Homo sapiens: one gene and its partners. The protein of the gene in region 3 purifies or fractionates together with the protein of the main gene of each other region. This does not show direct contact. Each region holds a gene or a part of one and is shown on either strand. Other genes may lie near its edges.

The links.
Region 1: the proteins of CDCA8 (region 3) and DCLK1 purify together in Homo sapiens (affinity purification with mass spectrometry; 3 studies listed by BioGRID and IntAct, with this or other methods). This does not show direct contact.
Region 2: the proteins of CDCA8 (region 3) and MYH4 purify together in Homo sapiens (affinity purification with mass spectrometry; 3 studies listed by BioGRID and IntAct, with this or other methods). This does not show direct contact.

What each region holds. Positions count from the first base shown.
Region 1 is NC_000013.11:36,129,470-36,133,222, forward strand, and holds the start of DCLK1 (serine/threonine-protein kinase DCLK1), read right to left. Parts: upstream 1,914-3,753; 5' UTR 1,645-1,913; intron 1-1,644.
Region 2 is NC_000017.11:10,442,790-10,445,712, forward strand, and holds the end of MYH4 (myosin-4), read right to left. Parts: intron 2,574-2,923; coding exon 2,448-2,573; intron 2,358-2,447; coding exon 2,187-2,357; intron 2,111-2,186; coding exon 2,006-2,110; intron 1,911-2,005; coding exon 1,815-1,910; intron 739-1,814; coding exon 586-738; 3' UTR 501-585; downstream 1-500. UniProt on the Homo sapiens protein: Muscle contraction.
Region 3 is NC_000001.11:37,702,363-37,706,115, reverse strand, and holds part of CDCA8 (borealin), read right to left. Parts: intron 2,865-3,753; coding exon 2,769-2,864; intron 676-2,768; coding exon 549-675; intron 1-548.

The DNA of each region.
Region 1 (3,753 bases), on a different chromosome or scaffold from region 3:
CAGAGTGAAATCATTTTCAAGGCTACAGCTACCTCTAAATGGAGCACACTCCACACCCTAGTGTGCTGGTAATTATTCGTGGCAACAAAATAGGTGTTCTTTCCCTCACCTTGGCTTAGTCATACATTTGAACCATGCATGAGCTTCTGAAGATCCACTGGCCTTCCACAGGTTTACACTTTCTGCACAGGAAGGCTGCGAGAACACACAGCTCAATGTTCAGAGACCATAGGTGGCCAAGGGCCTGAGTGCACATGTGCAGTGGCACCAGGATGGTAACCACAGCACCTCAGCCACAGCGACCACAGACACTGGAGGTAAGAAGGGCCACTGGCTCTCATCAGAGCTTTTCCTATAAATCCTGCCATTTCAAGAAACCAACATCCCTGATTGTTCTCGGTGGGATTTCTCACCATTTTGAGGAATCTATGTTCATCCTTCTCTAGATGAGCACATGGTTCTTGTTTCAGAAATTTACACACATATATACCAAGAAAAAAATGGCATAAATGCTACCACATCTAAATAGATGCTGGACCTGGAAGTCCCAAGGCATATTTTAACCGTGGGATTAGGATTCAGGTGGACTGGCATGAAATAAAACGCACACATACCTTCCAGGCCCGTGCACCACCACGGACGTAGACATCACAGGGTGTGTGCATATCTTTTATAATTTTCCTCTATATGACCTCTCTTAAAAAATCCCTTCTGACCTGCATCCATGTGACATTTCATACTTAAAACGCTGTCCTACTTTCCTTTCCCACTGAAAGGCAATATATTTAGGAACAGTCATAAAATGTATTCACGGAACAGCCTGCAGTGTGGTCGCTGAACGTGTGTGCACCGTGCCTGGACACACTCACAGGTGCAGCAGAGAGGGAGCCGGTTTGAATGAAACCTTTCATCTTCTCTCTCACCGACCAAGCATCTCCTTGCCAAATCCAGGAGCAATTCCGCGCAAACCTGGTTTTCAAAAGCAGCCTCTTTTGTGGGGCATTGCGGGGCTGTGCGTGCGCTCCCACTAGGAGGAAAAAATGCCATTTCCTCTCCGCAAGCTTTTAGCACTGCAGGTACTAATTTGAACATGAGGCAGCCTCGCTGTCCCTGAAGGAACTTGAGACCCTGCAAACGTACTTGCAACACCCACGCTGCAGCCACCACCACGCACGAATCGACCCCATCCACAAGCACACATCACTGGCCCGGGCACACGGAAAAGCACACACACAATAAGAGGCCGGGCCCGGCCACTCCTTCCTTGGTTCCCGCTCCGCAGCCAGTTCTGACAATGACAAGCACCTCTCCCAGCTCCTCCGCCCTGGCTCTCCATCTCCACTAACAACGCGAAAAGCCTGGGAGGGCCCGCTCGCCTGACTCCAGGTTTAAAGCCCCATGGCACCAAACAAAAGAGGCAGGTGCCAGCAGCCCCGGGGCCGCCCGCACGCAACGCCCCCGGGTCGGGCCAGGCTGGCCAGGGCAGGGCGGCCGCCTTTCGAGGAACTGCGGGCGGGGCGGCGGGGCCAAGCTGAGCGCCCGCCCTGCCCTCGGCGCCCCGCGGCTGCGGGCGGAGCGGGCTCTGCGGAGTCCCCCGGCCGCCCTCCCCGCAGCTCCCGTCCCCAGGGAAGGCAAACCACGCACCGGTCCGCGGAGAGACGCCGCCGGGGGTCTTTGTGGCCGCGCTGGGGGCCGCCTCCTGGTGCTGTCCTCGCCGGGCTGGGCGCGGCCGGGGCTGCGGGGCTGCAGGGCTGGGGGGCGGCGGCGGGGCCGGGCTGGGCGGCAGCAGCTGCTGGAGCGCGGCGCCTCGGTTGCGGCCACTAGTGCAGGGATGTGCCTCGGCCCGTCCTCATTGAAATGCGGCGCTTCGCACAGCCTCACTCCAGCCTCTCTCTCCAGAGGAGGGCGGCGGCGGCGGCGGCGGCGGGCGCGCTCCCTTTTCTTGTCTCACTCGCTCACACGCCCTCCCGTCTCCCTCCTCCTCCTCCTCCTCCGCGTGCGCGCCCCGTCGCCCCCGCCCTTCTTGGCAGGGCGCACCCACCACGGCTGCGCCCCAGGTCCTCCTCCCTCCCAGCGCCCTCTTCCCACCGCAGCAACCTCGGTGCATCTGGCTTGACTACACCCCTAAACCTCCCTAGTCCCCACAAGTAGTCTTTGGGAGATGGGGGCAGATCAGATGGTGGAAGAGAACGTGGACAGGGCTGAGTCTGAGCCAGGAAGTGTGCAAGGCACAGAGGTGATATGGCCGAGAGATGAGGCCCCCACCGTCGGGGGAGGGAAGGAGGTACCCACACTCATACCTTTTGATGTGACCTCACGGTCTGACACCTTTCCCAGGGTATGGAAGCCAGTGGATCACCTTCTCATCCTTTTTGCCCGGGATGCACCCACGCAGTGCCTCTTCGGATGACCAACCCTCCCAAGCTATGCACTCTGGTGCCCCCCACATTGGGAAGAGCTGGATCTGTTCATGGATCCCACCCATCATCTCCACTTAACCCCAAGACATGAGTCACTCTTGGAATAGTGACCTCTGCTTAGAGTCAAATATGTTCCAAAGGGCCCTTGAGAACTGAAGGGCCAGGTTTCACTGCTGGACACTTTGTGGCTGCCAAGGCTGGGTCTGCGGTGGAAAGCCCCATGAGCTCATGCGAGCCTCTCCTCCCAGAGGGGGAATGTTCTCCTAGCCCAGGCTGTTCACAGCTTCCTCCAGTCTTTGCACAAAAGTCCAGGGAGTGGGAGCAGCTCCCAGATTTCGGTGAAATCTTAGACTGGCTCAGTACGCAGCCTGAATTTTGATCCAGTTAATCTGACTTTCAATCCTGTCGTCCACAACCTGTGTTTGTCCCAAATACACATGAGTATACAAAATACACATAAGTATTTTTCTCTCTTCCTGAGCCTACACCTTTCAATGGAACATTAAAATTTTATTTTTCTCTTGCCCATTGATCCCAGTTATGTGTTTGACTACTTATTATTAAAAAGTTCTATTCTGAAATACTTTCCAAGTATGATGTAAATGTTAAATAATTACCATTTGTTTTAAAACACAGCTCAAATGAGATCCATGCTACATATTCCACAAGTGATGCGATATTTATTTTTGAACTATTTAATAGCCCAGAGATGAGAGTACAGTGAACTCACCAAATTAACTAAATGCAAAGTAGTAAGCCTATTCTTTCACATTCTGAGGCAAAATGAGAGCCATAGGGGTAAATTAAGAGAAAGGAAGAAGCCAAGTACATCTTCTGGAGAACAGAAATCAGAGCTTCTTTTTATCTTGCCAATGACAAATGCCAAGTGATTTCTTCCAAAATGCTAAGCCAAGAAATAAATTTCATCTCTTAACCCCTATGGATATTCTACTAGGGTCATTTCTTAAGAGCTTTAAGTAACTCACCATCATCTTACCTCTTCCTAGCTGTTGTACCTAGCACACACAGATAATGTGTTCAGAGAATCACCTTGGTGTTTGACTCTCTCAGTAGCAAAGTGCTCTCACTAGAAATAGTTGGGCATCATTAGCTCTTTAAGGAAACCAGGGGGCAACTGATAATTAAGTAGATGAAGACATTAAATAGTATACATTGGCCCTACAGTATGGTCATATCATTTAGTCCAGGACAGCAGGCTGGTACTAAAGTTCATTCCAGGGCAGCTTAAGCATTTGGCAAATCTAATTTATATTCAACAATAATTCCTTATTGAAATGAAATCTAACTAGAAAACTCCTAATTCAAGTAATTT
Region 2 (2,923 bases), on a different chromosome or scaffold from region 3:
ATAACTGTCTGGTCCTCTTTTAGGAATCAGCTCATAGTCTCCTTTGAGAAGCCTTTCTGGATTTCCAAAGTTAGCAGCTCACTCTATGTTATTGCCACATTTGTTTTTCACACTCATGTCAGAGTATGTATGTTGCACATACATACAGCGTATATCTTTTTGAACTGCCGTCTTCCACACTGGATTGAACTTCTCAAAGACAGGGATAACTGTCACATCTTTCGTGTCCATTTCTGTACCAGACATATAGTTGATACTCAGTAAAATTGGTTGAATGGAATTGAGAGTGCGTTTGTCACCTTCATGTCTTCTCAGAGCACCTTATTTCATTTACCTTCCATTAAAGTTGGGTTCACTGCCTACATTCATTTTTGTTATTATCTCTGATTGCACATATTAGGAACTCCACAAATGTTGAATAAAGGAATTAGTTCTAATAGCACTAAAGAGCTTATAATTAAGAGACAAATGTATTTTTAGATGCAAAATTATCTAAAGATTTTATTTCCTTGATATACAGGACAGTGACAAAGAACTTCACATTTCGTGCATTTCTTTGGTCACATTTTCTTTCATTAGAATGAATTACTCTTCACTTATGACTTTTGTGTGAACCTCCCGACTCTTCACTCTCAGCTTGTTGACTTGGGACTCAGCAATGTCAGCCCGTTCCTTGGCCTCCTCCAGCTCGTGCTGGAGCTTGCGGAACTTGGCAAGGTTGACATTGGATTGTTCCTCCTGAGAACAGAGATGCATTTGAGATAACAAGAAAATTGGACATTTCCTGATTGTTATTGCTTTTGTTACTTCAGGATTTGCCTCATGAATGAGAAAGAAAAAGGCTCCGTTGTCCAGGCATGGTGGCTCACACCTGTAATCCCAGCACTCTGGGAGACTGAGGCGGGTGGATCACCTGAGGTCAGGAATTCGAGACCAGCCTGGCCAACATGGTGAAACCCCCATCTTTACTAAAATTAGCCCAGCGTAGTGGTGGATGCCTGTAATTCCAGCTACTCAGGAGGCTGAGGCAGGAGAATCTCTTGGACCCAGGAGGCAGAGATTGCAGTGAGCTGAGATTGTGCCATTGCACTCCAGCCTGGGCAACAAGAGCAAAACTCTGCCTCGAAAAAAAAAAAAAGAAGAGAAAAAGGCTTTATTATTTAGTAACATAGTTATTTGAGAGCAAGGCATCCCACAAACTCGCCTATGTAAATGAATGTGCTTATGACCCTCCTCAAGTCTCTCTCTCACTTGACTCTCTTTCTGGCAAACTGAAGAGGCTGCAGTGATAACTGGAAGAACAAAGTAGCAGGGATCTGAATTCAATCTTGTTTCTAAAAAAGAAACTTTAAAAAATAGGTGCAGTAGTGGCATTTGGTGCCAAGAACCCTAAGGAAGGTTTCAGAATTAACAGAATGAAAAAGATAACTGCAGCCAAATTGAAAAAAAAAGTCCCAAGATGGATTTATCATGAAGTTAAATGAAGCTTAGAATTCATACTCTCATTTGCACAGGTCCATATGAGTGCTGGGGGTTGTAGAATGTTCTAGATAGGGAGGGAAGTGGATTGCAACTAAGAAACATTTGTATGTTAACATGTCTGGAAAATTGCTTAAAGAGGTCTCAGAAGAAATAAACTCAAATCTATAAGGCTCCAGTAATTTATGGTTCATTTTTCTCATTCTAAATATTCATGTTCATACCTAATTATGTATTCCCAATTTAAAGAAAACCCCCTAAATTCTATAAACTTTAGGCCCCAAAAAACCTGGATGTGCATCTGAACCTTTCATTTCCACTGTGGAGATACTCACAGCCTCTTCAGCTTGTCTCTTGTAAGCTTTGACTTTGGTTTGCAATTTGTCCACCAAGTCCTGCAGCCTGAGAATATTCTTGCGGTCCTCCTCAGTCTGAAAGAGGTGCAAGTAGATGGTGCCATTATTTTAAAACAACTCATGATTTTCTTGAAAACTATAGGCCTGGAAGATATGAAAACACTGGTCACCTGGTAAGTGAGTTCCTTCACTCTTCTCTCATGTTTGCGAAGACCCTTGACAGCCTCAACATTGTGCTTCTGTTCACTTTCCACCTCACTTTCAAGCTCTCTCACCTGGAAGGGAACAAAGACGTTTACCAGTTTGGCTGTAACTGGCCACAAGGAATTGAGTGAAGTTGTGGAGACCTACCCTGGCCTCCAGTTTCTGGATCTGCTTCTTCCCACCCTTCAGCGCCAGCTGCTCAGCCTCATCCAGACGGAGCTGCAGATCCTTCACGGTCTGCTCCATGTTCTTCTTCATCCGCTCCAGGTGGGCGCTGGTGTCCTGTTCCTTCTTCAGCTCCTCAGCCATCATGGCAGCCTAGTTAGCAAATAAATTTTGAAAATAATGAATTCTGATGATAGCAGGCAGCATGCATGTGTCAGTAAGACAAATGCTCATCTTGCTTACATCAGTGATGGCCTTCTTGGCCTTCTCCTCTGCATTGCGGGCTTCCTGGACGATGTCCTCCATCTCTCCCTGGATTTGGGAAATGTCTGTTTCCAGCTTCTTCTTGGTGTTGATCAGGCTGGTGTTCTGTTTCAAATTAATGAAAGAGAAGAGAAGCACATTTACTTATAACAACTCACATTGTCATTTTACCTAGTGTACACAGGCAAAAATTATTGATCATAAGAAATGTTTAGAATAAAAACCAAATTAGAAGATAATTCTAAGTTTATGCCTTTTCTCCTTTCTATATATAGCTCTTTAATCAAACTTCTAAATTTAATTTTTGATGTCAAACATATTCAACTATTACCATTGCCATTTGTAAGCATGAAACACAGCCCACAAAACTCAAAGTGCTGTACCATGGAGCACCACACCACAGCTCATTTAAAATGAATCAGTAATTTTTAGCTATTAACTCATGTTGGTTGACT
Region 3 (3,753 bases):
AAAAAAAAGGTGGGCACGGTGGCTCATGCCTGTAATCCCAGCACTTTGGGACGCCGAGGAGGGCGGATCACGAGGTCAAGCAATCGAGACCATCCTGGCCAACGTGGTGAAACCCCCATCTCTACCAAAAATACAAAAGTTAGCTGGGCATGATGGCGTGTGCCTGTAGTCCCAGCTACTCAGGAGGCTGAGGCAAGAGAATCGCTTGAACCCAGGAGGCAGAGGTTGCAGTGAGCCGAGATCGCACCACTGCACTCCCGCCTGGTGACAGAGCAAGACTCCATCTCAAAAAAAAAAAAAAAAAACCCACAAAAAACAAAAACAAAACCAAAAAACAGAAAAACAGAACCCAGAGCTGAGCAACGATCTTTGCAGTCTGGGCCTCTAACCTGGGAGAGAAAACTGGGTTCTGAGTCCCGCAGAAGTGTGGAGATCAGGACCCACGCACTGAAAGGACTCTGAGGGTGAAGCGTGGGTGAGGGCCCAGGGAAAAGAAATGCTTGACTAAGCAGCACACTGTGGCCTGGCTTCCCTTGGAAATACTTCACCTCTCCGCCGCCCACTGGCACAGTGAGGAAGATCTCTTTGCTGTCAGCAAGAGGGCTGCCATTCCCTGAGATGTTGTAAATCCGCTCTCCTGCTGCTGGAGTACGCAGGCCAGGGGTCTTGAAGACCCTAGAATGGGAAAATCTCTGTGAAGATAGCTTGGCAATTGGATGACACCAAACTCTATAGGCCATTTTAACCTTACTCTGGCCTCAAGTTGCAGTTTTTAAGTCATACATTCCTAAGAAAGCACGTTCTAAATTTAGAAAAAAAAAATGTTTTAAAGCAGTAATGACTAAACACAGCTGGAGAAAGAAGGTTGTAATTATTGAACATACATCTTACAAAAAGCCAACTCTTATCCACATAAAGTTTAGGTCCAAAGCTCCATATGGGTGCCATCATCCATCCATCCACAAAGCCAGAAATACGCTGGTTAATTGTTTCCAGGCGTGGCTGCTTCCATCAAGAGGAATTTTTCAGAGGCAAAGGAGGATGATTTAGATATTACATCATTATACTAATTTCTCAAGACAGTTAAAATACTGCTACCTAGTTTTCCCTAAATGCCTTTTGTTACATATTCATGTGAGAAAACAAACAGTAAAGAAAAGTGGGAACTGGCTGAGTGCCGTGGCTCATACCTGTAATCCCAGCACTTTGGGAGGCCGAGGGGGGTGGATCACCTGAGGTCAGGAGTTCGAGACCAGCCTGGCCAACATGGCAAAATCCTGTCTCTATTAAAAATACAAAACTTAGCTGGGCATGGTGGCATGTACCTATAATCTCAGCTACTCAGGAGGCTGAGGCAGGAGAATTGCTTGAACCTGAGAGGTGGAGGTTGCAGTGAGCCGAGATTGTGCCATTGCACTCCAGCCTGGGTGACAGAGCGAGACTCCGTCTCAAAAAAAAAAAAAAAAAAAAAAAAAAAAAGTGGCAATTAAAAGTAGAAAATAAATCTTCAACACTTCCCCACACCAGAGATAACCACTTCTTGCTCTCCTCCCCAGGGGTAACCACTCTGAATTCCTTATCTATCCTTCCAGAAACTTTGTATGTATATAAAACCAAATGGGATCATACAGCACAGTGTTCAGCAACCTGCTCGGAGATGCTCTGTGATCACGGTGCTCTTTCCCTGTCAGCACACACAGATCCAGTCTTTTTTAATGGCTATACAGCATCTCCTATTTGGTCAACTAGGTTCTTTGGAAGGTATTAACTTATGCTGCAAGAATATCCTCGCTTATGCCAGCCTCCAAAAAAGCAGTATCAATTTTTACTTCTACCAAGAGTACAGGAGAGTGCCTACTCATCTTTAAAAAACTGATTTGAGGCCGGGTGTGATGGCTCATGCTTGTAATCCCAGTACATTGGAAGGCCGAGGTGGGCAGATTGCTTGAGCTCAGGAGTTCGAGACCAGCCTGGGCAACCTGGCGAAATCCCATCGCTACAAAAAAACAAAAAATTAGCCAGGCATGGTGGCATGCTTGGGAGCTAAGGTGGGAGAAGCACTTGAGCCCGGGAAGTCAAGGTTGCAGTGAGCCGTGATTGTGCCACTGCTCTCCAGCCTGGGCATTGGAGTGAGACCCTGCCTCATAATAAATAAATATTTTAAAAATAAAATAAAAACCTTCTGATTTGAATCAGAAAAGGCCAAAAACGTCACCTAGAGGCCTCCTAGTCATCACAGGCAGAATATTCACCTCCCTCCCATTAAAGAATCATTTTGCCACTGAAGATAGGTGAAACTACACTTAAGGGAGAGGCATACACCAGGAAACCCAGCTGGCCACTGTCCTCTGACAAGGCATCCCAGGCCAAGGACTCGGGACTATTTTCTTTTCTTTTCTTAAGACAGAGTCTCACTCTGTTGCCCAGGCTGGAGTGCAGTGGTGCAATTGCAGCTCACTGCAACCTCCACCTCCTGGGTTCAAGCAATTCTCCTGTCTCAGCCTCCTGAGTAGCTGGGATTACAGGCGTGCACCACCACACCCAACTAATTTTTGTATTTTTAGTAGACGCAGCGTTTCATCATCTTGGCCAGGCTGGTCTTGAACTCCTGACCTCAAGTGATCCGCCTGCCTCGGCCTCTCAAAGTGCTGGTATTACAGGCGTGAGCTACCGTGCCTGGCCTAGGAGTATTTTCTTAGACACTCCTTCTCTGGGTAGTGCTCAATGTTGGAGTCCCATCAAATCCAAGTGTTTCCCTCGATACTCACCTTGAGTCAAACCTGGGTGTCAGGCCTGGAGTTGGTTTGACCATGGACACCTCCAATCGGCCCACGGCTGGGGTAACAGTGTTAGCACGGCTTGACCTACAGGTAAGAAATGGCCATCAGGTATGCCAACTCTCAGGTTCCACGAAGGCAGCAGCAGAGGAGTGACACGTGGAGAGCTGACTGTGAGATACTGCTCCGGGCGCCTCGCACACATCGACTCACGTGACCCTTCTAACACGGGAGGCCAGCACTGCTGCCATCCTCATACACAGATGCAGAAACTCAGGTGCATCAAGTTTTAAAAACTTGCCCAAGATCACATATCCAATTAGGATGGAGCCAAAACTTTGAACCAAAGTAGTCTGCCTCCAGAATCTGACTTTTTTTTTTTTTTTTGAGACGGAGTCTTGCTCTGTTGCCCAGGCTGGAGTGCAATGGCGTAATCTTGGCTCACTGCAACCTCCACCTCCTGGGTTCAAGCGATTCTCCTGCCTCAGCCTCCCGAGTAGCTGGAACTACAGGCATGCACCACCACACCTGGCTAATTTTTGTATTTTTAGTAGAGACAGGGTTTCACCATGTTGGCCAGGCGGGTCTCAAACTCCTGACCTCAAGTGATCCACCTGCCTTGGCCTCCCAAAGTGCTGGGATTACAGGTGTGAGACACCACACTCAGCCTCAGAATCTGACTTTTTAATCAAGGAGACAGCCTCTTCATGCGAAGGCTCCCCCAGCTGGAATTCTGTCCTTGTGCCAGGCAGCTGCTGCACTGCTCAAGAGAAATGAGTTCGCTCCTCCACAGACATGCATCCCGGTGACTACTCTCCTAAGCTGCTGTACCTTCCCCCACATGGCTTATGGTAGAGTCCAGTATAATCAACTCAAGCCCATAGAGGTTCTTCACTTTGCAGGACTGGACAAAACATTTCAAGAAACCAATTATAGGTAAGTGACAGCCACTCTATGACGAGCTATGGGGTAGCTC